Linked DNA regions of Homo sapiens. The protein of the gene in region 3 purifies or fractionates together with the protein of the main gene of each other region. This does not show direct contact. Each region holds a gene or a part of one and is shown on either strand. Other genes may lie near its edges. The genes, in order: COLGALT2, SECISBP2L, PSG9 and APOL2.

The links.
Region 1: the proteins of PSG9 (region 3) and COLGALT2 purify together in Homo sapiens (affinity purification with mass spectrometry; 3 studies listed by BioGRID and IntAct, with this or other methods). This does not show direct contact.
Region 2: the proteins of PSG9 (region 3) and SECISBP2L purify together in Homo sapiens (affinity purification with mass spectrometry; 3 studies listed by BioGRID and IntAct, with this or other methods). This does not show direct contact.
Region 4: the proteins of PSG9 (region 3) and APOL2 purify together in Homo sapiens (affinity purification with mass spectrometry; 3 studies listed by BioGRID and IntAct, with this or other methods). This does not show direct contact.

The regions. Positions count from the first base shown.
Region 1 is NC_000001.11:184,027,711-184,034,736, reverse strand, and holds part of COLGALT2 (procollagen galactosyltransferase 2), read left to right. Parts: intron 1-7,026. UniProt on the Homo sapiens protein: Beta-galactosyltransferase that transfers beta-galactose to hydroxylysine residues of collagen.
Region 2 is NC_000015.10:49,043,429-49,050,381, forward strand, and holds the start of SECISBP2L (selenocysteine insertion sequence-binding protein 2-like), read right to left. Parts: upstream 3,019-6,953; 5' UTR 2,872-3,018; coding exon 2,848-2,871; intron 1-2,847. UniProt on the Homo sapiens protein: Binds SECIS (Sec insertion sequence) elements present on selenocysteine (Sec) protein mRNAs, but does not promote Sec incorporation into selenoproteins in vitro.
Region 3 is NC_000019.10:43,266,530-43,274,108, reverse strand, and holds the start of PSG9 (pregnancy-specific beta-1-glycoprotein 9 isoform 1 precursor), read left to right. Parts: upstream 1-4,578; 5' UTR 4,579-4,677; coding exon 4,678-4,741; intron 4,742-5,959; coding exon 5,960-6,325; intron 6,326-7,579. UniProt on the Homo sapiens protein: Binds to the small latent transforming growth factor-beta complex, consisting of the N-terminal TGFB1 latency-associated peptide (LAP) and the mature form of TGFB1, thereby leading to the activation of TGFB1.
Region 4 is NC_000022.11:36,229,528-36,236,553, reverse strand, and holds part of APOL2 (apolipoprotein L2), read left to right. Parts: intron 1-2,218; exon of another isoform or gene 2,219-2,318; intron 2,319-3,098; 5' UTR 3,099-3,152; intron 3,153-3,312; 5' UTR 3,313-3,391; coding exon 3,392-3,401; intron 3,402-5,087; coding exon 5,088-5,214; intron 5,215-7,026.

The DNA.
Region 1 (7,026 bases), on a different chromosome or scaffold from region 3:
TTCTTCTAAGAACTTCACATTCATTTTCTGGTTTAAGCTTCAAAATGACCCTATCAGATATGCACTGTTATTATACCACTTTACAGGTGAGAGAACTGAGGTACAGAGAGGCTGTACAAGCATATTCTTCTAATGCATTTTTTAAAATAAGAACCAGCCAGATCAGGGCTGAAAAAAAGTGTATTTAGATATGTGTGTTTTTTTACAGATAAATATGATTCATTTTACTGGGCAGTGTAAGGTGATCTGAATGGCTTTTAAAGGGTTTGGGGAAGAACCAAATGATTTATAAATCAGATTGGGGCAGTTGTATGGATATGGATGTCTTCTTGATGAGTGGACACTTAGTTTGAACTCAGTTTTGAAGGAAGAGTAAAAATCAACTAAAACCTGGGAAAGAAGGATGGCTCTAGAAAAAGGGATCAGCAAGGCAAAAAACAAGCAAAAAAAAAAAAAAAGATAATAGGGCATCAACCAGAGTTTTCTCTCAGGGAGTTCAAGTGGGTGGCAGGTCTAATGACTGCAAGTCTCCAAACAGATTGTATTGTACCATAGAATCTCTTTGGAAGTGCTGACTTCTGGTCTGGCCCTAGGGGAATATTTGGCTGGGAAGCTTATGAGATATAACACTCTGATGGGAGGTGGTACCTCAGTTTAGGATGTTACAGATTTGAGGTGCTTCTACCGATTGCTTGCCTCTAGTTTCTCATTCCCAAGCTCTATGCAACATTCCAAGATGCCAAACTGATTAGTATCCATTCTGCAAAGCCAGCACATGCTGATGTCAAAAATGGCTGTGAGCTACCCAGAACTTTGTAAAATAGAACCGCAGTGAATACAGAGCCACACAGAATTCAGCTTCCTCTGAATCTGACCACAATAACTCACTCTGTGCAGACTCACTCTTCTCATTCATCCACTCACAGGCTAGAGGAGCATCTGATTTCTGTCCCAGATGGGTCAGTGAGAGACCTGGCTTATTGATCACATTCAGACTCCCCTGTTATGTGATAATTTTTCTCACTTTAAGTTCTGGACCAGATCTGCACTGCACATACAGATGAAATGAGTATCATCAAATTGACCTGGAAGATACTGTTGTTGAAGAATGTCTGCAGTTATCTCAGTCAGCATCAAGTTTATTCAGATTAGTCTGAACAAAGGAAAATTTATATTTTAGAGATACTTTGTATAAGCAAAAAGGAAAGCTTTTTACATTTACCTGTCTGATCTCAAAATCCACCAAGCTAATTGTTTTCCTTCAAATATCACAATCCTGTGATAAGGACCTAAGGAAGATATCTATTTCATGTGTCCTAAAACCTGCACTAAGTTTTAGGGAATTGGGAATATGCTGAGATGAAGGGAACTGTGAGGCATTGTGACAAGTGGTAGTGTACTTCAGTGGGTTCTCCTTAATTCAGTGGAACCATGAGCAAGTAGCCTTAGCAACAGAGGGAAGGCTGACCTCATCCTCCTTAAACCTATGATTAGGGAGAGTGGGGCCAAGTACCATGACAGTGAAAACCGAAGCATGGCGCAGGGAAAAACATTTGCCCCAAATGAAACATTAAGTTTTTCTTTTGGAGAGCCTGCTGTTGCTTGTGGGAAGACAGTTGGGATTCACAGAGTCTGTGCAGGCACAAGGCAGTAACTGCTATGTAATTACAGAAAGATTTGGGCATTTTGTTTGGCAGAGTTTTGAAAAGTAACATACTAAATTGGGAACCGCTTTATGGATTTTTAAATAAAGAGAGGAGCTTCTGTTGACATAAACATAAACAGTGATGAGCTGGGGGATGGTCCTAACATTTTGCATACTACTTTATTTCTGCATTGTTTGGGGATTATCTTGAATTTATCTCCACATTTTAATGTCCAATCAGTAGCATTTTCATAATTGTTTAACTAGAAATACTAATATACTTTGTGTTTATAAACTGTTCCAAACTAGTATCAGTGACATTTTTCAGCACCAGTGGTAAGAATGATGTCATATTTTATCATTACACTCTTGATATTAAATGTTGTATGTTATCCCTACAGATAGAAGTTTCGGTTTATGGCTGAAAAAGCAGATGATGCCTTAGGCCCCTTCTGTCTGTTAGTCTGTTTTCCTCACCTTTTTCCTCCTTTCCTCATTTTCCCAATCTGGTAGTTTAGCGTGGAGGGCATCAACCAGAGTTGGAGGAAGAAATATACAAGCTTAGGGTCAGATAGACTAGAGCATAAATCTTCTGTGTGATTGTGGGCACATCAGTAAACCTCTAAGACATAGCTGCCTTATCTTCAAATAACTAATAGTAACACCTGTCTCAAAGAGTTATTGTTACAAGTAAATGATATAAGGTATGCACAGTGTCTTTTACATAAATGCTACTAACAATGATAGTTGCTATTTCTTTTGAATCTTTTCCTTTTTCTCCTATCTCCTTTACCTTTACCTTTCAAAATCAAGATTTTAAAAAATCTTCAAATGGAAATTTGTTTAGTTTCTTCTTTCCAACAACAACAAAAAATATTAGTATAGGAAACTAACATTTATCTGGATGCAGTGGCTCATGCCTGTAATCCTAGCACTTTGGGGGGCCGAGGTGGGCAGATTTCTTAAGCCAAGGAGTTCAAGACCAGCCTGGGCAACATGGTGAAACTCCATCTCTACAAGAAATGTAAAAATCATCCAGGCACGATGGCATGCACCTATAGTCCCAGCTACTTGGGAGACTGTGGGTGGATTGCTTGAACCTAGGAGGTGGAGGTTGCAGCAAGCCGAGATTGAGCCACTGTGCTTCTTCCTGGGCAACACAGCGAGACCCTGTCTCAAAAGAAAAGAAAAAGGAAAAGGTAAGGGAAGGGAAAAATAAAGAACTAAGGAAGGAAGGAAGGAAGGAAGGAAGGAAGGAAGGAAGGAAGGAAGGATACATTCATGGAGGCACTGTTCTAGACACTTTGGTATCAAAACTGATTTACTCCAGACAACAACCCTAGGTGGGAGATGCCATTACATTCTACTCTATCACTTTACACAGAAGGAAACCGAGGCACAGAGAATATAAATAACTTGCCTGAGGTCACTAGGCTAATGCATGGTGGAGCCAGGATGTGACCCAGGCAGCTAATGTTGCAGACCGAGTACAGATGGTCTGCTTAAGATTGTGAAAAGACCAATTAGTTCTAGTTTTTGCTTCTGTCGGTTGACCCAACTTGGGAAGATAAGAACGCTAGTGTTTCTTTCAAATAAGAATTGTCATTTCCACTTGAATGATGCAAGGGTCTTAGTGGTTCTCTTCCGCTGTCTTGATAATTTCATCACTTAGTTCAGGCACTTTTTAGTGAACTCTAATCTGTTTTGGTATATTTCATAGGGACAGATTATGACTAAAATGTGGGTTGTACATAAATATGCAGGTCACTTGCTGTGATCATAGCTACATAACAGTAGAAAGAAATTTCTCAAGTATTATTAGTGGCAAATGATTAAGGTGGCACTAATCATACACGTATTGGCTACATTTTCAGTTCATATTGGTAAAATAGAGATTCCATTTTTCAGGCTTTTTAATCAGTAGTCTTAGATTTGGTTGTCCCCTAAATTCAGCTTCATTCCAAATGATTGAAGAAATTATCAATCCTCCCTGCAACCTCCAATTTCAAAATATGATTGGAGCTCAGAATATTTCCTCTGGGTAAAAACTGAAGTGACTAATAAATGACACCAATCCTGTTGTTCCAGTTATGACAGCTTAACTACAGAATTAGTAAGAATGCCTAAGTTGCCCTGGTTTTATTATATTGAGTTCCATGATGAGGCATCTAAAGCACAGGGCAGTTAAGAGATTCCCATGGTGATTATGGAATGAGATAACTGATTTCTAGATTTTTAATCCTGTGTAGCTGTTTTAATGCTGATTATTTTATAATGAATATCCTTCTTGGTTTAAAGGAGCATGGGGAGTATTTTAAGCAGAGTTTGGTTTTCTCAGATCTGTTTTTAGCTCCTTTATCCAAGTGATTAGGCCAGGGAGTTTCTTTGTGACTCCAAATACATAAGCATGTGCTTCTTAGGTTCCTTTTGCTTGTCTGTTTCTGGTGGTCATAGGAATGAACAATGAATGCCTTGTAACTGAGAAGGCTGCTGGTTGTCTCTTGGTTCTTTTTCCAACACTTAAACGTGCACTTGGGTCATATTGCTGTGTGGCACCGTCTCCAAGTCTATGGCACAGTATAGTAGGACCATTATAAGGCTTATATAGGACTATAGTAGGACAATAATAAGGCTTGTTTCTGCATATTTCTTGACATAGCATAACAACATACAGTAAAGTCTGAAAGAAAATCATTAGCCTATGGTATGGCCACTACACCTATTCCCCAGTTACCATATCATGAAGAACTTTTACCATATGTGTTTAAATTATAGCTATTATTCATCAGGAATTACAAAACGTATGTATTCTATGTTTTGACATTTTTATTTCAAAAGAGTGACTTGTTCATTTAATTGCATTTAATTGATATGTTGTTAGCATATCAAAAATTGTTAGTTTTTAAAAATTTGAATCCCTTAGGGTCTTTATGGATTTTTAATAGTACTTCAGTTATTTTAAGAATTTGCTCTTCTGACTTTTTTAAATGGGAAAGTAATAAAAAAAGTATGATTGGGAATATCACAAAAAGTAAATCTCCCATCTACTCTATACCACCTGCCAGTGACCAATATTAACACTTTCTTTCATATTTTTCTAGAAACTTTCTATACATATACATATATCCTTTTCATTTTAACCCAAATATGAGTGTTTTACATATCCAGTTCTGGATAAGTGTGATATTTTAAAATCCATCTCTCTATCCCATGTTCTTTAAACACTGCCAGCCTATCTACAGCCATGCCCTGGGTGGCACAATAAAAGCCAGCTTCATATAACACCTGTTCCAGGCAGGTACTCTGAAGGCCTCTCTGATAACACCCGTCCTGCTCTCTTGTCCTTGTCTCTCTGGCCTCTAGAAGGTCTGGCCCTAATAAAAAAAACTTTTTGATGAGGTGTAATATTTATCCAAAAGTTCATATATCATAAATGTATAACTTGGTAACTTTTCACAGACAAAACATGCCATGTAACCAGCACCTGACCTTGCCAGGCCTGGATTCATACACAGCAACTATTGTTGGAGCTGAGTAGCTGCTGTCCCCTGGATTTTGTCCAGGCAGCCCAGTCCCCATCAGACCCACACTGTGTGCACTTGCAGTTAGTCCCCGCTGTCTTTCTTTGACTTGACTTGCCTGACCCATGTTGACATTTGGGTGGTGAGCTTTGCTCCCACCTCAGGCTGCTGAAGGAACCCTAGGACCCAAGCAGTAACTACTTTGGGGAACCAGCAGGCTTGGCAAGCTGCCAGCGAGTGACCTAGTGGTAAAAGGATCAGGATTGTATTACTTTTCCCTTAGCTCTCTACTCCTCTGGTAGGAAAGCTGTGCATTAATGTTCATAAAAATAAAAATCTCATTATAGGTAATAATTGAAAAGTCAGGTAGAATATAAATAGAGTGGCTGTAATTAATTTGCTGGAACTTTCTGTAGTTCAGATCCGTGAAAATGCAGCATTTGTGGTAGGTGGCATTAGCCAAGTCTCTTGCATGAATTAAACCTCAGATTTGGCTGCAGGGCGTTTCTTTTCCTCTCTAGGAGCACCATACAGAAATCCTTTCAGAGTTAGACTTTGAATAATAGCTCCATGACATCTTGCTAGGGCTGACTTTGTAACGTGTTTCACTTAATTGAAGCAACAATTATTATTTTAGTTGTTTGTCAAATTCAGCAAGCTAAGGCCTGTCCCCTGACTTGTTGGTTTAACTGATAAGATTTTGTTCCTCTGCAAACATAATGCAAAATAATCTCCTTCCCTCCAGTGTTTTCTGATTAATGTTTGAAGACATCTTAGAAGATATGTCTTTCAGAAACACAAATAATAACATAAATAATGATCTTAGAATAGTGATCTTGGGCTGTATACCCCCAAGAGTATGGTAGAAGATGAGTCTGGGACAAGCTGCTGAGCTGAAGCATTTTCATGAGTACCTGATTTCATTCACACATTGGCTTTATTGGAATAGTTCATTACCTTCCAGGTTGAATCACTTCAAGACCTATTGAGGGATACATCAGGCTGCAGAGAGGAGGTTCCTTACATAGAGCTTTCCCCATTTGGACTGCCAAGCCCAAAGTGCATACAATTGCTGCCAAGAGGGAAGTAGGACTGTTTCTTTCCAGTCCCTTTTCTTTCTGAGAGTGATTGTATATGTTTTGGAGATGGGGAGGGCAGTGGTGAAGGCAAGTATCTCATTCTCACAAGAGAGAGACATAACTCTAAGACAGGAGAGTCTGTGGAGGTACATTGATTGGTGTTCTCCCTGAAAGCCATATTAAGTGAGAAACTGCTGCATTTTAGAGTCTTGGGAAAGGTAGAATTTTCTAGAGACTAACAGTAGAACTTAAATTCTTGGGATAGTTGTGAAAAGTGTGGTTGTAGACATTTGGGGCCATAGCATTCCCGACACGGAGTCCCTTGCTGGACTAATAGACTGTTTTTTAGTTTCTTGGTTGCCAGCCAGCCCCATAATCCTGTCTCAGCACCACACACCACAATGATTATGGTTTACACCCGCCAAGATAGTGGAAAGTTGCTGCCAAGTGGAATCAGGATTTTTCATGTCATCACTGCACCATTGAACAGTAAGCTTATATGCAGCTTCCACGCCACTGCTTTCCTTGTGCTAGAAACAGGTTGGGCGGGAGAGTATTCAGACAGTCAGACCATCTCTTGTGTTGCAAATGGATTTTGTGGAATTGGCATGTAAGGCTTGAAACAGCCAGCATACGAAAATATTTTAGAAAAGTACAAGCCTCTTCTCTGCCTTTCCTCAATCTTGTTAGATTTTAATAAAATTTATTGGGTACGTTGGTTTCCATTGTAAGCTTTTTATTTAGCAAGACAAACTATGGATTTCTAAAACAATGGATTTTT
Region 2 (6,953 bases), on a different chromosome or scaffold from region 3:
AAGCCAACATTTAAATTATTTGTGATAACAGAAAAGAGACTGTTAACCTCAAGTGTTCTGTCACTTCTAAGCCCATTGTTTACTTTAAAAAATCTCAATAAATTTCCTAAAAATAGAACCAGTAAGCCTTTATAAACAAAATGAACTCCATGATTTATCCTTCACATCTCAAAATGCAAGTTTTTTTTTTTTTTTCAGGGGAAAAAATGCATTATATACCAAGCAACACATATTCTTAGAATATTTAACTCTGGCAGTTAAAATTAAGCTAGCTATTTTGATTAAATACAGAGAATACTCTATAAAAAGTGCTGAAAGAGGATACTCCTAAGATTTTCTTCTAGTTATAACATTCTTTCAAATAATCATTATTGCAATTAAGATTATCCATCTAGCACTGTATTCCCAGTAAGTTACTTTTTACAATCTTGATCAGCACACATACAATTTACCTTTTCTATAAAAAGATTTTATATATTAAAAAAAGGTAATTCACAAGAACAAGAACATGAATGCCTTCAGGCAAAAAAAAAGCGTTTTTTTTTTAAAGTTACACTTGTAAAGTACACAAGGATTTAATTAGGTTAAGATAAAATGCAGAAAGTCTATATTAAGTACTACTTTTTAAAAACCAAACTTCTATGAATTGCTAACTACCACAATACTATAATGAGTAAGTTTTAATGCTGTAGGCATCTAGAGAAATTCTGAGTATGTCAACACTGGTCTAAAGGGAAAAAAACATTCTGTGAGGAAAAATGGAAATTGACACATATTACATATACTTTTCAATGACGTCAATCTACCTAAATTCACTTCAATAGTAGAAATACAAAAGTATAATCCAAATATCCTGGAAAAGCCATTACATGACTCTATGGCATAAAGAATCAAGAATTCCACAAAATTGAGAAATCTCAGTTCCCAATCTACTATTAAGTTAATGGTTCTTAGCCGTCCTTTGAGAATACGATGAAAATAATGGATTCTTGCCCTAGAAAAAGGCATATAAAGAAGCATACTCCTTCTAGGTCATTCATGGACCCCTGAATTAACTGCCTATCGCATAAATGAGGTGAAGACATCACTTTTCTATATATATTTTCTGAGTGTATAGGGAAGTGGAGGATTTTCAAATTATTCTTTCATTTAGGGTTAGGCTGGGGAAGAGGCAAGAAGTACTGGAAGAAAAAAAAGTCAACAGAAAACCTTCTTCCATGTTTTTTTCCTAGTTCTTAAATTTCTACAAGGTTTTAATAGGTCGTGGACTTTGGAAAGATGTGGAAAGGGGAAAAGGCTCTCTAGTTTAAATAATTTGCTCACAGCACTTGCTGCTAGGATAATCACAAACAGCTATGCTAAAAATTACCATCTAAATAGTTAATTATATTTCCTCTAGGATGAAAGGAACTCTAAGTATACATAAGGTAGCATTACTGGTTTTAGTCCTGGCATCCTAGTGAAGGAACAAAATGTTGAACCCTTTCATTAGTAACACACATACAAGGAAATGATTCAAGGAAAATTCGTATTCATTTGTCAGGCTTTGAAATCTCAGGTATTTATGATAGATACCTTCAAAAATGTTTTTAAATTAAACTAGATACAGGCTGTATACAGAATACTTCTGGGTCACATAAATGCCTAAGTGTATTTGCCAAGAGACTCTGTATCAATTTCTCTTTGGTAATTCCATGTATTGTTTTATAAAACTCATTTGTGTCTTCAGAGTTACATTCACATAAAGCTTTTTTTTAAAAAAAAAAGTCTTCTGTAAAAACAAGTATACACAACTAGGAAGCTGTGCTTTGCCTGCTAAGAGTCCGATTTCAAAATACAAACCGGCTTCAACTACATATAGACACATACAGGAATTTGGGAAATCTTATCTCATTAATTCAGGTGCTAATTATCCAACTGTAAAATTAATAGGCAGAAATTACTAGCCTCTCTTCTTCCGTCATCTAGTCATCAATGGGCAAGGCCTTCGAAGAAGGGAATAGAGAGTGAATAAACTTGGACTTCAAATTAAGTCGTTTCGCAGAGATCTTAAGAGTGGAAAATACTGGGGGGGAAACTATTGTTTTCGATTACTTTTAACACTGTTATCATCCCTGCCTGCTACCACCTACTAGCATGCATAATCAGGAATTTGATGCAAATAAAAATAAAACAGAACACTAATAGGACTACTTTGCGAATATGAAAACGGGTTCGAAAATAAGCTTATGCTTTACACCCTTAAAATAGAGCTAGCTTTAAAAAAAAACCCACTAATTACAATTCTTTGCAAAATAACTGGATAAAAGGACAAGGGGAAATCGTAGTATCGTTTCTTAAAAGAAACACCTCCGTAAAACCACTGCAAAAACAATGCTTCGCTCCATTGAACACAGACCTAAAAGGCCCGTGACTTCCCTTCATCTGTAGTTACCACACATTCTCTTACAGTCTTTCTGGGTGAGAAGCCTTCAAACGCCTTTCCACCTTGAAAACACATTCCAGAGCTGAAGGGAATGGGGGAAGCGGGGAGACTACTAGAAGTTATAAGCCCTCCTCCCAGGAGAGCAGGGACAACTTGGAGCCTTCTGACCCCTTCACCAAGCAGGGGAGAAGCGGCAACGGCGAGCCCTCCGCCTGGGAAGTAATCAGGGTTGGAAAAGCCCCCAAGTCCCAGGCAGCAGCTGGAACAATGAAGGAGAGCTGGGAGCTGCCAGGCTCCCAGGTGAGGGGGTCTGCGGCCGCAGGACCGGCCCCCGGTCCCCACGTTCGGAGAACTGGGCCTGGCCTGTGAGGAAGCGGCGACCCCAACCCCCGGCTCGGCGGGCCCAGCCCAAACCCGCGTACCTGCTCCGTGGGGGCTCGGTCCATGGTGCCTGCAGCCGCAACGGGCCCGCGCTAGTCGGTGTAAACAGCGCCTCGGGCCGCTTTCTCCATGGCCCCCCGCTCGGGTCCAGACTGGGTTCCGGACCTCCGCCCCTATCTGGCTGGCCGCGACACCGATTCGGCTACGCCACTGGCCGAGGAGGCGGCTCCAGCTCCGGGAGATGGAGGAGGCGGTGGCAGCTTCGGGGAGGGATCATCTGGGACGGAAGCCGAGGAGGGCCCGAATGGGCTGGAGGCGTAGTTAGAAATGGAGGCGCACGGAAGGAAAAGGAGTGGGGAGGAGGCAGAGAGGGGCAGTGGGCGGAGTGACAGCAAATGGCCTCAGCAAGGGTAGGAGGAACCCGGCCTGGCCTGGAGGCTAAGGCCAGGTGGAGGCGCCCAGGAGCAGGTGCCCCGAACCACACGCCACCCCTGCGACTGTTAAACGAGAAGTGTCAGACCACTTGGGACCCAGGTCTCCCGGGACTTCAAAGACCTCTTCAGGATCTGAAACCACCTCTTAGTGATGTTGGAAAAGCTTTCATCTGCCCACCGTACATCTGCTCCTTCCTTATGTTACGCAAATAAAGGGAGTCATGACTATAAAGGAATGAGAATATTCTGAAAATAATGGAGTCTTGCCCTAGAAAAATGCATATGTAAAACGCATACACAGAATGACTGGAAGAGGCCCGCTAGGAAGCTCCCCACAAATATTTATTGAGAGTTAATTCATTATCCAGGTTCATGCCCACTTCTAGGCTCACATCCAGGCTGACCTCGCCCATCTCAGAAATCCTAATTTTATGCAGGATCTGTATAACACCACCCAACGGGTAATTATTTTATCTTCAGATCCTTAGCTCCTTAAGGGCAGAGACTGTCTTGAAACTGGGCACTACCGTTAGCATGGCAAATTTCTTCTGGGCATCTCCTCAGACACACCCTCCAACACCCACACCCTCTGTGAAGATTCAACCAACTGCGGATAGAAATATTTTGAGGAAAAAAGAAATATCAAGTACAACAATAAAATACAAGTAATACAGTTTAACAACTGCTTATACAGCATTTACATTGTATTAGGTATTATAAGTAATCTAGAGATGATTTAAAGTATATCGGAGGATATGCATGGATTGTATGCAAATACTACACCATTTTATATAAGGATCTTTAGCACTCATGGATTTTGGTATCAGCAGGGATCCTGGAGCCAATATCCCCCCTGGGATACTTAGGGACAACTGTATAAGCTAAATTACACTTAAGTGAAGGTAGAGTTGAGGTGGCTGCTGTTTGGGGCACTGGTGTGGAGATCCACAGCTAGGAATGGGAAAGAGATTTTAAGAAATTTGCTTTGTCATGCTTCAGGAGATATCAGTAAAGACTAATTGCCTTTTCAGTTAGTCTAGGTTATTAGTCTGGTTATTAGACTCCAATATGAGGCTTGTTATGTGAAGGCCCCTTGCTGTACTTATGTTGATACAGGTTGGGTATCTCTAATGGAAACTATGAAATTCCAAACCCTCTTGAATCCCAAATGTTCCAAAATTAGAAACTTTCTGAGCACAGACATGACATTTAAGGATAATGTTCGCTGGAACATTTCAGATTTTGGACTTCCAGTTTAGAGATGCTCAACCAGTAAGTATAATGCAAATCTTCCAAAATCCAAAATCTGAAACACTTATGGTTTCAAGTATGTCAAAATAAGGGACATTCAACCTGTATTATATATTGGCCTGCTGAAAGGAGCTATATTGTGTCAGCAAGACTTATATCAAGGCTGGCAATAGAAACATCTTGAAAGGAGAAACATTTATATTTACACATTTATATTTACATTTAAATATATTTATTTAATTTTAGTAAATTTTCTGCCACCTCAAATTTAATATCAATGCATGTGTATTTGAACTGCAAATTTATGTAACATTTGTAAATATATGTGCAATTAACGTAATGTTAGGTCCCTGGTGCCTATCACACACCTAGCTGGGATTCAGTGAATGCTGAATGAATTTAGGGTTGGTTGCTCAGAAAAACTAAGTTATTTATAAGGAGTAGTTATGTAAACTAACAGATGACCGTCCTCCTTCACAATTGAAAGACAAAATAACTGAATTTTCAGATTGTCTTCCTACTGGTGGTCTATAGCCATAATATACCCTCATCTGAGTAAAAAGATAATAGCAATGCACTCATAAAAATACTATAGTACTTTTGCTTTTCTTCCTTCTTCTGAGGAATGATCTGAGGAAATTTAAATATAGGATTCCCAAGGATCTTTCCACATTATAGGATTTTTATGACTGTAAAATTGTTTTCATTGAGAATCTATGTACAAGACATTCATTAAAATTATAAGAACAGAATCATAAGAATTATGAGAACAGAAATGTCACAATGCCCTTCTCATTTAATGTAATCTTTAAAAAGATGGCAATAGCTAGTAGATAAAAAATTAAAATCTGTGAAAAAAAGTAAGACATATTAAAAATACTACACTTTACAGATGATATAAATGAATGCAAATTATTTTATTCACCAATAAATATTTAATGTGCAAGGTACTATGCTAAATACTAGAGGTACAGCAGTTTATGAGACACCTTGAGGGCTGAGACCATGTTTGTCTTGTGGGCAAGACATGCATAGGAGAAGTCTTTATAAGTGAGATGAGTGTAATGAAAAAGGAAGTATAATAGGTGCTACCATGGTAAGGGATGGAAGGTCAGGGAAGGCTATTTGAGTAAATAGCATCTACAAAAAGACCTGAGTAGGAGTTATGATCAGTAAAGGAGAAGAAGTAGGAAAATTGTTTCAAGAAGAGGAAATGGCACATGTTAGCATTCTGAGGAAAGAGAAAATTCAGCCTTTAGTACTCACACAAGCTCATCCCTTGGAATGAGGGTTCAGAATGTGAGGGATAATCCAATAGATGAAGGCCTCTGAGAAGCTCGGAGGGGATAGGACACAAATACCAGGGGCAAGAAAGAGGCCTTTGATGGGAGTAGGGGCATGTTATCTACTGTAACAGAAGAAAGGAAGAAAAGATCAATATGGCTACAGATTATATACATTTGTAAGTTTGGTGCCAAAAGTTGAGGGAATGCCTAATGGCTTCTGTTTTCTCAGTGATGTAGGAGGCAAGGTTACCTGCTGACAATAAAGAGAGGTGGAGTTGTGGTGACTAGGCACTTGTCAAAATTCAGCAAACATATAGTTAAATTATGTACATGTCATTATATGTACATTTTATCTCAAAAGAAAAAACTATAACCAAATATTGAATTCTAGCTTTAACAAACGCATACACCTATGTAATTCAAATCTCTATCAAAACATAGAATGTCACCATTACCTCCAGTGACATTGAAAACTTCTCTACTTATATCAAATGCTTGTCTTATACATTGTTGTTATTCTTACTACCTATACCAAAGCCTAGCATGCAACAGGTGCTCCACAAATATTTATTGAATAAATGAGCTGTAATATTATATTAAATCAGGATTCTTTCATCCAGGGTTGGGGTTTTGTTAGGCATGTGCATTTTATTGAAGGAGCAGGATTCACTAGGGTGCAAGTAGAATTATTATTTATTGTCCTGTACCTTCAAATTCTCTGAAGATGATTTCTTTTTCTGCCTTGGATGAAATCTCGTGAAGGTCACACAAACTTTATTCCACGTCAAAACTTCTCCTTTTCCCCAGCTCAGTCCTGCTTCAAGCTGGAAGCCTGCAGTGAAGGACGTGGCTTGGTCCACTTCAGTTTTGTTTTCTACATTTTTTATCTCCACCTCCTGTACCTTAAATACTCAGATTAGGCTTTTAGATTTCTCTAGGTTTGGACTGTGAGGGGGAGGATGGCAGAGCTTCTCAGATGTTTAATTACTACTTTCCTGCATGTTTACATGCAGCAAAGTCATCTCAGAGCAGTCACTTATGACCCTAGCCCTCAGCCCTTGTGCTTCTGAGGGTTTAAATCTCAGCTTGATCAATTTGGGGAAGAGCAAGCCAGCCTTATTTGCTGGATTCCCTTTTAAAATGGCTTCAGGCAGAATTCCTGGGATCCCATCAATC
Region 3 (7,579 bases):
AGTGCTTCCAGGGTCTCACAATTCTTCCACAAGAGGCAATGCACACTTTAACATAGCACTTCAGCAAATAAAGTGGTGACAGTTTACCTACTTAGATTAAGTTTCTTAAAAGATTCTCCCAAATTTCCCCCTGAAGAAGACAGAAAAGGCTTTCCCAATTGTGAAACATTGGCTTCCCCACCTTTCAAAAAAGGACCCCAGAATAGCCAAAACAATCTTGCCAAAAGAAATTGTAGGACTTGAACTTTCTTATTTGAAATCTCACAAAGGAGTACAATTATTAAAACAGAAGCTGCTGGCAAAAGAATGGACATAAAGACAAATGGGATAGAATTGAGAGTCTAGAAATAAACCCTCACACTTATGGTCAATTACTCTTTGAAGAGGGTGTCAAGACAATTTAATGGAGGAACAATTCTCCTTTCTAATGATAGTGCAGAAACAACTAGATAACCACATGCAAAACAGTGAATTTAGATAACTCTACCTCCCACCATATCAAACAATTCTCTAAAAAATTGATCAGTGAGTTAAATATAAGATCTATAACCATAAAAACATCTTAAAATAGACATAGATGTAAATATTGATGACCTCAAATGTGCAATGGATTCTTAGATATGATACAAAAGCATGAGAAATAAGAAAAAAATATACATTGGGCTTTATCAAGATGTGAGCCTTTTGTACATCAAAGGAAATTATCAAGAAAATAATTAATAGATACAGAATGAGAGAAAATATTTGCAAACCACATATAGGCAGTTTTCATGTCCAGATAATATAAAGAACTAGCTACAACTCAATAACAAAAGGACAAACCATCCAATTTATAAATGGGCAAAAGACTCAAATAGACATTTCTTCAAGGAAGATATACAAATAGTCAAGAAGGACATGAGAAGATACGCAACATCATTAGTCGTTAGGAAAATACAAAGTCAAAGCATCAATGAGACACGACAACTCACCTACAAAACTGGCTACCATTCTTTTAAAATGTTAAATAACAAGTACCAGTATTATGTAGAATTTGGAATCTTCATACATTGCTGGTGAGAATATAAAAAGGAGAAACAGTTTTGCTTTTCCTCAAAAAGCTAATCATAGAATTCTCATTTGAAACAACTTCCATTCCTAGGTATATACCCAAAGAATTAAATCCAGGGACTCAAACAGGTACTTGCATGGGAATGTTGATTGCAGCATTATTCACAAAATATAAAATATGAAAACAATCCAAGTGCTCCTCAACACATCAATAAATAAATATGGTGACACATACAACAGAATGTTAATCTGCCATAAAGAGGAATGAAGCTCTGATACCCACTGGAACATGCATGGACTTTGGAAATATTATGCTAAGTGAAATATGTCAGAAACAAATTAACGTAAGTGTATAATTCCATTTATATTAGACATCAAGAATAGGCAAATTCATAGAGACAGAGTAGAGATGATCAAAGTCTAGGGTGGAACATACAAGGAGGTATTGTTTAAAAGATACAAAGTTTCAGTTTAAAATGATAAAAATTTTCTAGGGAAAATAGTGGTGATGGTAATTTAACACTGTGTATGTGGTTAATTTCACTTGATTGTGCATTTTAAAGTGGTTGAAATAGCACATTATTCACAGAACTGTGAAAAATAGATTTCTATTATATCGTTCACCCAAGCTAAGGTGTTTGTTATGGCAGCTGAAGCCCATGAATACATCATCTGACCCAGTGTGTCAATGAAACACATCAGTATTTCAATCAAATTAGCTGGAAGCTCCTGTCCCCAGGAGAATCAAAGGCCCCAAAACAAGAGCTCCAGCAAGGGCTCAACCAGCACAGGTCCCATAGGGCAGCCTCAATGTCAGGCCCTGGATGGCATGTGAGGCAACAGCAATACAACCACAACGTGAAAATGTAAGTATTTTTACTACTTCCAGACACTAGGGAGCACTCGGCACACCTGGAGACCACAGACACAGTGGTCAGTGACCCCATGCAGGGAGGAGAGAAGAGACCTGTAAGCGAATGGCTTTATTAAGTCCAGGGTGTTATCTGACAGGTTTCCAGCAGGGAGCTTTAATGGATGTGTTCAAAGCAAGCAGCAAACACTGGGACCAGGAGCTCACGCTGTGACTGAGAGGTAGTCACTTTAAATGTGAGGGCGAATGTCAGAATTATCAGTTTAAAGAAAGCAGCTTGAGAGAGGGGAGCCCAGCACACCAAGCAGGAGAGATGCCTCTAAGATTTTATCTCTGGACACCAACTGGAGCCACTTGAACCAGACACAGTATTGAAAACTACCATGGTGACCAAGCCCTGCCTCTGATTTGAGGCAAATAAACTTACACCTTAAAAAATGAATGCCAAGGCAACATGACACTATGAGCATCATGACATCCAGGGACACCAGCAGGGTGTGGTACTGTGCCCTGGAGTCAGAATCCTGGGTTCTGGTCCCTGGGAGTGAGAAAATGAAAATGACTTGTCCTTGCCCCCCTGACGTTGATCTTCCCACCCTGCTGCTCCCTCTTCTGCTCTCAAACCCATGTGCAGTGCTCAGCCCCAGGCATCACTGCCCCCAGGGTATTCACAGTGTTGCCTACTGCACACAAACACAAACTCACAGAAGGTGACAAAAATCTGCGTTTGGGACATCTGATTGTGAAAGAGGGATAACAGTGAACGTAGAGCCACAGAGACTGGGACTCACGGGGCTGGAAGGTGAAGGAGCTGTAACATAACATATGTGTGACCTCGTGTGAAGTGGAATAAAACATGCAGCCTGGCCTGGGATTGCTGCCGTTCACACTTCCCTCCCTGTCCACCAGAGGGCGACAGAGTCCCTCCCAGCCTGGAGCCTTCCCAGGGGATGCCAACCTCCCTCAGCGGAACCCACAGCCCAGCAGGGTCCACCCTCACCAGGGTCACTTCGGCCCAAGTCCTCAGCACCCTCCATGCTCCCCACACGGACTCTGTCAGTTCCTCCCTGACCTGGCGGCCGCCAACCTAACACCACTCCCTCTGCAGGGAGCTCCTGCCCCACACACCTGCTCCTTCCCTGGGCCCAGCTAAAGGCATCTCCCAGGGCAGCGCTGGTGCACGCGACGCCACACTGGGCGCTTTCCCCTCGTGAACTCTCTCCATCCTCATCAACTCTTTCTGTCACTGCTCCCTAAATGCCTGCCCCTGCTCCATCTGTCCTGTTCTCTGGGGCTTCCCAGGCCAAGCCTAGCGCCGACACAGAACAGCGGCTGCCTGAGGGCCCACAGCCTCCCCGGGAATCAGCCAGGCACCCTGTCACCTGCCTGCCCCCTGCACCCCAGGGGGCTCAGAGAGCGTGTGATGGTCATTCACAGGTACCATCCGGGATGTGGCCACCTACCCCCAGCTGTCCCTTGGGAAGACAGACCTCTCCTGTGTACTTGCGTGGAGAAGGGCGGTGTTATTGCTCTTTGCTCCCAGAACACAACTCACCCCCACCCGCCCTCTCAGGTGTGAGCAACGTCCCTCCAGAGAGCCTCTCTGGTCACTGCCTGTTCCTCCTCTACAGACAGCAGCTTGGCCAGGTCAAAACCCTCAGGACAGACCCCTGGGTGTGTCAGCACATGGAGGGCTGAGCCCATCATGGCCACGGAGTAAGTCGGGATGAATCTCTCCAGCTCTGAACCCCTGCTCTGTCCCAGGCTCCCCCTCCTGCGTCTCAATGAGCCATGTCCCGCGGGGTTCCTGGGTAACTCCCCACTTCCTCCTGCACCACCACGGGGAAGGTGTGGTGACCACAGGACAATCAGCTGGGCAGAGAAGAGAGGACATCAAAGATGGTCAGGGAGAACATGAGAAACCCTGAGCTCCAGCTCAGCCGCCAGACCCCAGGGAGCCATAGACTGACAGAGAACTGTCCCTTTGACTATGGGACTCACAGCCCCCACTGAGCAACCAGCACAGGCCTCTCCTCCTAAGAGGCATGAGAGATTCACCCTGCACACCTCCAGGAAGGACAGTTTCCTCTGGGACACCCAGGTCCTGAAAGTCCATCCTTGGAAGCTGCAGTCAAGCTTGACACGATTAGAGAAAGGAAGGGTCCCTCTCACCAGGCAACACACAGCTCACCCACAGCACAATGGGGTGTCACTGTGACAGGGACCTGGTGCATCTCCAGCCTCCTGCACTGAAGGGGAGAGCCAGATGGGGATGAAAGAGGGTAAAAGGCATGAATGTGCACCCCAACCCAGAGCCATGGGGACAGCAGGAGGCTGAGGCCCAGGACTGTGCTTGCCCAACCTGCAGGGTATGTGCCTGACTGTGTGGGTCTGTGTGTGTCTCTTCTGTGTGTGTGTGTGTGTGTGTGTGTGTGTGTGTGTGTCTGCACAAAGTGTGTGTTGAGGTTTGGTGAAAGAATCACTGCTGAAAAAGGCAGAGGCCTCCACAACTCCCAGGGACCTGAAACACAGACAAAAGGAAAAACAGAAGGAGGGACAAGGAGGCAGGACTGAGAGAGAAGGGGACAGAGAGGTGTCCTGGGACTGACCCCGCCCATGAGCTTGAGAAGTGCTCCTGCCCCGGGAAGAGGCTCAGCACAGAAGGAGGAAGGACAGCACAGCTGACAGCCGTGCTCAGACAGCTTCTGGATCCCAGGCTCATCTCCACAGAGGAGAACACACAGGCAGCAGAGACCATGGGGCCCCTCCCAGCCCCTTCCTGCACACAGCGCATCACCTGGAAGGGGCTCCTGCTCACAGGTGAGGAGAGAACTTCCTGGGAGAGGACAGGGGGAGGAAGCGGAGTGACTGGATGGGGTCTCCTGGAGAGGATGGGGTTGTAAAATAAAAGAAGCCAGCTCTTAGGGAGGCTGAGGTGGGTGGATCACGAGATCAGGAGTTCAAGATCAGTCCGGCCAATGCAGTGAAGCCCAGTCTCTCCTAAAAATATAAAAAATTAACCAGGTATGGTGGTGTACTCCTGTAATCCTAGCTACTCGGGAGGCTGAGGTGGGAGAATCATGTGAACCCGGGAGGCAGAAGTTGCAGCTAGCCGAGATACCGCCACTGCACGCCAGCCTGGGCGACAGTACGAGACTCCGTCTCAAAAAAAAAAGAAAAAAAGGAAAGAAGGCTCTGTTGCAGCCTGGATAGGGGAAAATACACCAGAGAGGGACAGGGGTCAAAAGAGGAAAGTCACATTGAACCGGAATTGGTAAGAGGTAGGAAAATCTTAAGTGTTCTGTTTTCCTGATTAATCATCCGGGGCCACCACATTTTGAAAAATGATAATAATAACTATATCAGATGACACTTCAAATAAAAATATAAGCAGGACATGAAACACTATCCTCAGCAAAAAACCTCAACAATTGGGGGAAAAAAAAACACCCAGGGCATGGAGGGCCCTGAGAACTCTCACATCTACAGGAGTCTGCAGCCTGTCCCAGGCACTGGGGTGCAACCAGGATCACAAAAGTCCCTGTCCTCACGGAGCTCACGCTGTCATGGGGAGGAAGACAGACATGCGAAGAGATGTAGAATGTGAGATCAGGTGTTGACAAGAACCCTGGAGGGAGCAGAGCAGGGAAAGGTCAGAAAGGGAAGACCCAGGGTCTCTGAAGGAGGTGTCAGGAAAGAAGTCTAAGGATGCCCTGATGTGAGCAGGACCTGAGGGCAGTGTGGAGGGGGCCGTGTGGACCCCTGGGGAAGAGGATTCCAAACAGAAAAATGCCAAGGTCAGAAGTGTTGAAGGAATGGGGGTCATGCTGCTGACCTTGACCTAGTAGGACAGTAGGACACACACACATACACATACACAAACACACATGCCCGTTTTTTGTGTGTGTTTGTTTGTATGTGTGCGTGTGTGTATCTTCAAGGCTGAGGATGGAAGAGACCTTCTCAGGACCCAGGGCCCCATCTTTTCACCACAATACATAGGTCTCAATATTAACTGATGCTGTCTCCCCCTCCTAGCATCACTTTTAAACTTCTGGAACCCGCCCACCACTGCCGAAGTCACGATTGAAGCCCAGCCACCCAAAGTTTCTGAGGGGAAGGATGTTCTTCTACTTGTCCACAATTTGCCCCAGAATCTTCCTGGCTACTTCTGGTACAAAGGGGAAATGACGGACCTCTACCATTACATTATATCGTATATAGTTGATGGTAAAATAATTATATATGGGCCTGCATACAGTGGAAGAGAAACAGTATATTCCAACGCATCCCTGCTGATCCAGAATGTCACCCGGAAGGATGCAGGAACCTACACCTTACACATCATAAAGCGAGGTGATGAGACTAGAGAAGAAATTCGACATTTCACCTTCACCTTATACTGTGAGTGATTCCACATGATCCCTGGGTGTTGGGGGGAAGGGGTCATTTCTACTTCACACACACAGGATTGTCAGGCCTGGACTCTGCCTGTGTCACTCTCTGCATTATGTCCCATGCTGGGGTTTGGGCATTTAGTGCAGGACACACACAGAGGAGACAAATTTCAACAGATCAGAATTCCTTTCCCGCATCCAGACCCTGCAGACACTCGCTGCAGAGGAAGGACAGTCTGATGGGGGGACTCAGCAGGAGGAGATCAGTCTCAGCCAAGCACATCATGCCCTCTTCATAAATTTGACCCTGAGAAAGACCCTGGAGAACTGAGTAGGGCTTGGCTTGAGGGGACCCCTGAGATACTCTCAGAGAAGCTCAGCCCTAGAAGCCTCAACCCCAGACCCCTGTCCCTAAATCCTTGCTCCAGTTAAGCTGAGGAGCCTGTGCCAGTGCTGGGTTGTGGCTTCTTGGGCAGGCCTTACTGGGACCAAGAATTTACCAGCTGTCTGAGGACTGTGTCTCCTGGAGCTGTTCACCAGCCAGGGCTCAGCCCTCAGAGTCTCATCTGGGCAAGGACAGAGCTTTTTCAGCTGACACTCAGAGTGGAGAGGACAGAAAGACAAGCTTTGTAGGACATCAGCCAACTGCCTTGGGAGGCTTAGGACAGTCCATAGAAAGTCTAATGTCCCCAGAAGCAGAAACAGAAGGGAGAAGATGTACCTGGTAGCAGCTTGTCCACAGGGATCTGACATAAGGTGCTTTCTCATGGAAGCAAATTAATAATAAATGCTGCTTGTGTGAAACCTCCACTGTGCCAAGCATTAGGTCAGGTGACTGTGAATCATTTAACATTTATTCACAGATAGCATGAAAAGCCACAGTCCATTTGCCATTTAGTTTATTTGATTGAGAGAAAACTGAGGCACAGGAAGGTGCAGTCACTGAACCAGAGTCACACAAACACAAAGGGGAGATCAGGGTCACATGAGGTCTGTCTGCAGCCACAGGCCTATCCTCTCCTCCACCAGAAGTGAGGGCTTACTGGGTTCCAAGGACCCCATAGTCATTTATTGGCTCAAATCCTCTCTTCTTAGGCATCCAAACCTCAGAGGAGTGAGAGCAAATGGTCAGCTGATTAGTCTGTATTCCAGAACTAAATCACCTGCCTCAACCATCAGAGTCAGTGCAAAAAATATGTCCAGGCCTCCCCCTCAGATCTTAACCCCCATCACTGAACGTGAAATCCTGTGTTTCCCAAAG
Region 4 (7,026 bases), on a different chromosome or scaffold from region 3:
GGATGGGCCTGAATCGGTATTATCATTATTACTTATAGTGTCATTATTAGTCATTTTCATCTTGTTTGTACACTCCCTCTATCTCTCCTCTCCACCTTTTCCTAATATTGTATCACCAGTTTTATGTCCTCCATTAGCAACTTTGTAGCTGTAAACAATTTACTTACAACTTTCTTTCTTATACTCTCAGTTTTACCTAGTATTTCTTGACTCCCCTCTTTAAAAGATGACAATATTAATCCTCCTTCTCCTTCGTTCAGTGCTTCACATCCCAACTGCTACCTTTGTGCTTTAAGTTTGTACTAATCGGTAACAAGTATATTTAGTTCTCATATTTATATGCTCTGTTCTGTTCTCAAAGTTAAAAATCAATCAAGAGTGTTTACATTTTGTGATGTTTTAAATACTATTTACTGTGGAGCTGAGTTGTACACCATGTTTGCACATGTTTTGTGGCACAGCTTTACTTTTTCCTGATGTTTCTAATTGCCTTTGTTTTTTTTCCTCCCTTGTACTGCTTGCCTTCTTCATTTCCTCAGTTTCTCTCAAACTGTGAATCCTTTGAGGTATTCTATTGAGTCCCTTTTTCCCACAGAACCATTCCCTTTTTATTCCATCCTGGACTGGTCGTTTTGTAGGCCTACTGCATGTCCCACTGTGATCCTCAGATTCCCTTCTCTCTGGGTTGATTTTCCTGTTTTCTGGATCCCATGTCTTTTTCTTTCTTGGTTATCCCCACCTGCCCTCCATGGATGCACAACACATACACACACACACACACACACACACACACACACCCACCCACCCACCCTTTCTTCCTCCCGGTGGCTCATTCTCAAGTAGCTTTCTTAGAACACCCTGTGACCCTGTGCCTGGTAACTTTTCTATTCCCCATATAGCTCCTTTTCCTCTGTCATCTTTTTGGTTTATTTTCTGGAGGATTTCCGTGACTTTCTTTCACATGGTCTCTCTAGACTTGTTTATTTGATCATCACCTTTTAGTTTCTAGAAAATCTCTTTTTTTGTTTGTTTCATTGATTTTTCTTCTTTTCTATATATCTTGTTTTAAGTTTATGAATAAAATATTTTTTAATCTCCCTGAGGACATGGGTTTGAGATTTAAAAAATTACTTGTTTGTTCTGGACTCCTTTTGTATTTGGTCATCTTGGTCTGTTTCCCCACTTTCACCTTTCTCCAATTTCTGATCCTAGATCTATTCATATTGAACGGGGTGGGGGGCAGGTCTACTGGCAGTCTTCCCTGTAGGGTGATTGAATGGGAACCCACTGAAGTGTCAGAATACAAAGATATTATTTCTGGGGCATATTGCTTCAGTCATGAACTCTCTGATTTTTTTCACTGGTGTAGACTCAAGGCTGGCATGAATCCCATATGGCACGTGGGCCTGGTGAACTCCTCCCCTCTCTGAGGCTCTGCCTAGTAGACCACTCTGCCTGGCTGGATGCCCTCTTGGCATTGCTGTGGTTCACAGCTCCCTTCACCCCTCTTTATTCAGTTGTCATTTCTTCAGCCAGTTCTGTTTTCCAACATCTCTTGGCATCTCTGATCTCCTGTTGCCCTCATTTAAATTTTCATTGGCAGCAGAGGGTGCAGAGGCAGTGCGTGAGTTCTTGAGTCCGTCTGTCTGGGTGGGAACCCAGTCTTTACCACGTAGTAGATTCTGAGCTTGGGCAAGTCACTGAACATCTGTTTCAGTTTTCTTACCTGAAAATGGAAATACCAATGGTACACACTTCCTAGGTTCTTGGAAGAGTTCTGTGAGTTACTATTTATAACATCTTAGAGCAATTAGTGGTGCAAAATCCACCAATGTTTGCCCACATTAACATTAAGTGCCATTATACCTGTAAGTGCCTTGACTATGGCTGTAGTTTGATCTCAGGAGGGGAGGTTGATAAATGCTCTTCTGTCTTCTTAAAACAGTGCCTAAAGATGATTAATATGATTAACATTTGCTATTTTCCCTCACCTCCCAGGGTAAGATAATCAGGAGCAGAATGTGAAGAACTTTCCTCTATATAAAGATCAGCATTTATTCAGGCCGGGTGTCGTGGCTCATGTTTGTAATCCAGCACTTTAGAGGGCAGGGTGGGAGGATCCCCTAAGGCCAGGATTTTGCCAGCAGCCTGGGCTGCATACTAGGAGTGAGACCTTGTCTCAAGGAATAATGTTTTGTTTTGTTTTGTTTTCCTGAAGAAAAGACTACTGAGAGCCAGTAAGACTGAAAGAATGGACATCTTCATATCCTGTTAGTTTGAGTGTGAATTTGTACAGTTTTCATACAGAGTGGCTCTAGGTATAAAAACTTTTGAGATGTTAATAGCTTTTGACCTAGTCATTCTACTCTTAAAAGTATCTTAAGGAAATAATCTCAAATGTGAGCAGTTTTACGTGAGGGAGGATATTCTTTGTAGCATAATTTATATGAAGAATTAGAAACACCCTAAGGTCCATCAGCTAGGGGAGGACAGCAGAGGGGACGGGGAAGCATCAGGAGGGCTCGGCAGCCACAGCAGGGGCTGGGCCGGCATCTAGCAGGATCCAGGTCTTTGTGGGACAAAGAATCTTAGAGAAGCAACGGGGACACAGGCTGTCCACTGCAGCACCAGTGAGTTCACCAAGACGAAGAGTTGAGCACAGAGTGTGAGACAGGGATTTGCAATGAGGAGTCATTTACCATGAGCGTGTATACATGACTCAATATTGTATATTTAAGGGAGTAGAGCACAGTAATTGAAGACATGGGATTGAAGCAGAAGTCCTGGCTCTAGCACTATTGTGAAAACACCCATAAGTTCCCTAACTTTTGTGGATTCCTCTGTGTTCAAATGGGAAAGTGGTACCCATCTCCTGTCCTGTGTGTGATCATCGAATGAGATACATGTCAGAGGCCATGCACATCACAGACACACAATACACACTGGCTATCATCAACTAGTTATCATACATGTTCCCAGGCCCAGGTCATTGTCAGAATGTTCCCTCCCATCTCTATTCCTGTGTATAGACTCTGTAGTTTCTGTAATGATCAGATGGCTGCCCCTCCTCTGATTATCTTCTTCTCATACCCCTACAGGACAAGAGGACCCTGCCTTGGTGTGAGAGTGAGGGAAGAGGAAGCTGGAACGAGGTGAGTTTCTGTAAATACTAGCTGGCAGGGCCCCAGGAGATAAACACTCTGGACATTTGCTGCTACCACAGAGGGATCTGCAAAGACCCAGCCCCTCCAGCCTCCCTCTGTACACAGGAGGCTCACCTTCGATCCCACAATTTGTTTTCTCGTTCTCAAGGGTTAAGGAAAACCTTCCAGTCTGGACAGTGACTGGAGAGCTCCAAGGAAAGCCCCTCGGTAACCCAGCCGCTGGCACCATGAACCCAGGTAGGCTCGCTTCCTCTTTCCTGGCTAGTTCCTACTCGCACCTAGAATGGAGGGTGGCACCTCCACAGCTGAGTGAGCCCCAGAAGAACCCAGATGGACTAGGAGGCCAATGAGTCTGCCCCGAGCAGCAGAAGAGGTCACGTGGAGTCCCCCGACCCAGGGGTCTGGGGGTCATCTGCATCCTGACCTCTCCTCGGGGTGACACGGCCCAGGTGCCCACTTCCTCCCTACCCTGTCACCCAGCAGATGACTCAAGTGGGGCAGGACAGCCATGAGGAAGTGGAACAAGCAAGAGAGGGGAGTGGGGGAAGAGCAGGGTCCAGGAGGAGGGGAGGGGTGGGAGAGGAGGTTGACCTGCAGCCCTGATCTCTTATCTACCGCTCTTCTCCCTGCTGACCCAGGGTTTTTTCCAGCACAGGCCGGTCCCCTCCCTCCAGCTCTTGCCCTGCACCAGCCCCTCTGTTCTGAGTGGCCCTATGGGAATGTATCATGCTTGACCCAGCTTCCAACTTAAATGGACCCCGGTCTGGCCTTTTCCAAGTCCCTTCTGTGTGACCTGGAGCTCCTTACCTCCCCTCTCGTGTACCATGAAAATAATATTTCCCCATGTTGTCACGAAGATTAAATATTATAAGGGTACCTGGCCTGGCCAAAGCCTGCCACACAGTAGGGCCTCCCTAAGAATTAGTTTGCATCCCCTCTATCTCCTCTATCTATCCCCTGTTGATTCCAGGTGGAAGCCACCCAGTCCCCTCATCTGTGTTAGGGCACCCGCCCTGCACTGCCCATCACAAGCACCTGCTGACCAGGGATGACTGCCTCAGGCAGGGCCTCATTCCCATGATCTCAGATACCCCTTGTCAAAGAAAAATCTGAGGCACAGTAACATTTATTTGAATAAGAAGGAATTCATGAATTGAGAAAACCAAACTGGAAGAGGCTTCATGTTATGATGAAAAAGTGTCAGAGACAAGTATTTATCGAGTAAATATGAAACTGCAATAAGGACATTATTTGATTGGTTGCAGTTACAAAACTGCCTGTTTTGATTTACCTTTTTGGAAAATTCCTGGTCACATTGGTGCTGGTGGGTTTAGGAAGTTCTCCGAATCCAGGAGAGACCAGACCTTAGCCTTGTCCAGGTTTTTGACTCCACTGAGAGAAAAAATTTGAGTCAAAGAAAAAACAAATCAGCTGCAAAGCAGAAGCACAGGCTCAGGGATGGAAGTGCAGGTGGACTCAGAAGAGCCAGTTGGGCCCAGTGGGGTTTGGGGTTTCTGTCTTTGATGGTTTATTAAATTAAGGGGTTGGAGCCTTGGGAGGACTCTCTTGCTGGCTTGCGGCAGCTGCCTTTGCGCTGTGTGCTTACCTGGCCTTATTGTTTCTCTTTCTCTTCTTACAATAGGACACTAGCCCTCTAGTAGGATTAGAGCCCTACCCTTGTGATCTCATTCAGTCTTAATTGCTTCCTTAAAGGCCCAATCTTCAAATATAGTCACTCGAGTTTAGGGCTTCAGCATATGAATTTTGGGGGCACACAATCCCTCTATAGCACTGATGACTCCATCAAACATGTCCCACATCACAGTTGTCCAGGAAAAATTAACATGTAACCACCTAATGTGCAATGGCTGTTATGCTCCCCTACACTATCCTCCAACCTTATCCTTTCTTCTTTCCAACTAGAGAGCAGTATCTTTATTGAGGATTACCTTAAGTATTTCCAGGACCAAGTGAGCAGAGAGAATCTGCTACAACTGCTGACTGATGATGAAGCCTGGAATGGATTCGTGGCTGCTGCTGAACTGCCCAGGTAAGCTCCATGGGGTTAACTCCATGGGGCGCCCCAGCGATGCCACTCAGATCTCCCCTGGGCTGGTTGTCCCTGACAGGCACACCTCCTCCAGGCAGCCCCCTCTGCTGGGCTTGAGGATGACCTTCTCGGCACTCCAGGAGGAATATTTCCTCCATGTCCTTCGCTGGCAGTGAGTAGCCTCAGGCTGAGGGGATAGGAAGCCCACAGGAACAGGGTCATTTCTGCCATCTGCTGGTGATGGGAACTTTGCCAGTTACTTTCTCACTTTCAGCCTTTCTTCATCAATGGAGTTTTATTATGAGAAAAATGAGATCATGCATGTAAAGTGCTTAGCATAATGACTGACACATAGTAGGTGCACAGTTAACGTTAACATCTTACAAGCTTGGTGGAAAGAGACCAGGGTTAAGGATCTTCTTCTTGAAGATGGGAGCCCAGCAGGACTTCCTTTGGGAAAAGTCAGAAAAATCCTAACCTAAACAATATGTGTTCCTGGGGATGCTGGCTGGGGCCTTTTTTCTCATCTGAAGAATTCCACAAACACAGCAGGACCCTTCTGCTGGTCCAGGATCCTGAGAGGCCTAGTTCCTGGGCTCTGGGCTTATGTCATGGAGACTTGGAACTGTCTTCTGTCCAATAGGAATAGCAATTCAATGTCATAGGAGTGTGGTGAAGGCCTTAGAGGCAACTCCAGGTCAAAGGTGGGGAACCAAGGACTAAGATCCTGCTCAAAGGCCCAGAGAGACCGGGACCAGTGTCAGAGCCTGGAGTCAGGATGGAGTAAGAGTCAGCCTTGGTTTGGTAGGACAAGCAGGAAGGCTGGGGCACCAGGGCTGGGACTAGGGTGTGGAAAGAGAGGCACCAAGGGCTTGAAACTTAAGGAGGTCATGAACTTGCAGAGGACATGTGAGTGGGAGAGGGATATTTCTTCCCTGTCTGGATGATCCCAACACTCATGGGCATACAGGGTCATGGTAGCCTGTGTCTCTCACCCCATGCCTTGGAACTGGTGAGTTCTGGACTACCCTTTCAGACCTTCTTCTCTTCTACACAGAGAAGCTCCTTACCATGGCATGCCTTAGTGACCATTTCCAAAGTAGAATGAGTTGCTGCCAATTTGTGTAATTTCAGGGGTACTGAGCAGACTCACAAAGTCCCAACCGAGGAGGAAAACACTTCCTCTACCATCTTGACCAAATTCAGGTCTTTTCAGCATTAGCAATTTATATAGATGGTTCTGAAAGTGTCTTGAGTCTTCTAGTGGTTCCATAAAATTGCACATGGCCTTGCTGTGCACACAGGTGAAGCTGTCACTGCTAAGGCATCAGTTAGGCTGGTGACACCTGCGAGTGAGACCTGGAAGGTTGGGGGTGCAGGTGGTAGGTCAGGAGGCAGTAAGGTGGCTGGAGCGTCCATGTGGAGCCAGAATGAATAGCCAGATCTCCCACTCCAGTCAGCTGGGGCAGTGGCCGCACCCAGTAGCCTTCAGCCAGGTGAAAGGGCATGAGGCATTGGAAGGGAGCAGATGCCAGGCAAAGTGATCTCCTGTCTTTCTGAGGTTTTGTTTTTGTTTGAATTCAAAGTACTCAGAGATAGCCAGACTGCAATGTCTGAGGGCACCCTTACCTTTGACACCACCTGCAAATCTATGGGGATTCCTAAAATCATCCTTAGATTTTATAATTCACTAGAAGGACTCACGTAACTCACTGAAAACTGCTATTGCACGATTGTGGTTTATCACAGGGAAAGAACACAGATTAAAATCAGCCTAAGGAAGAGACACACAGGGCAGAGTCTGGGAGGATT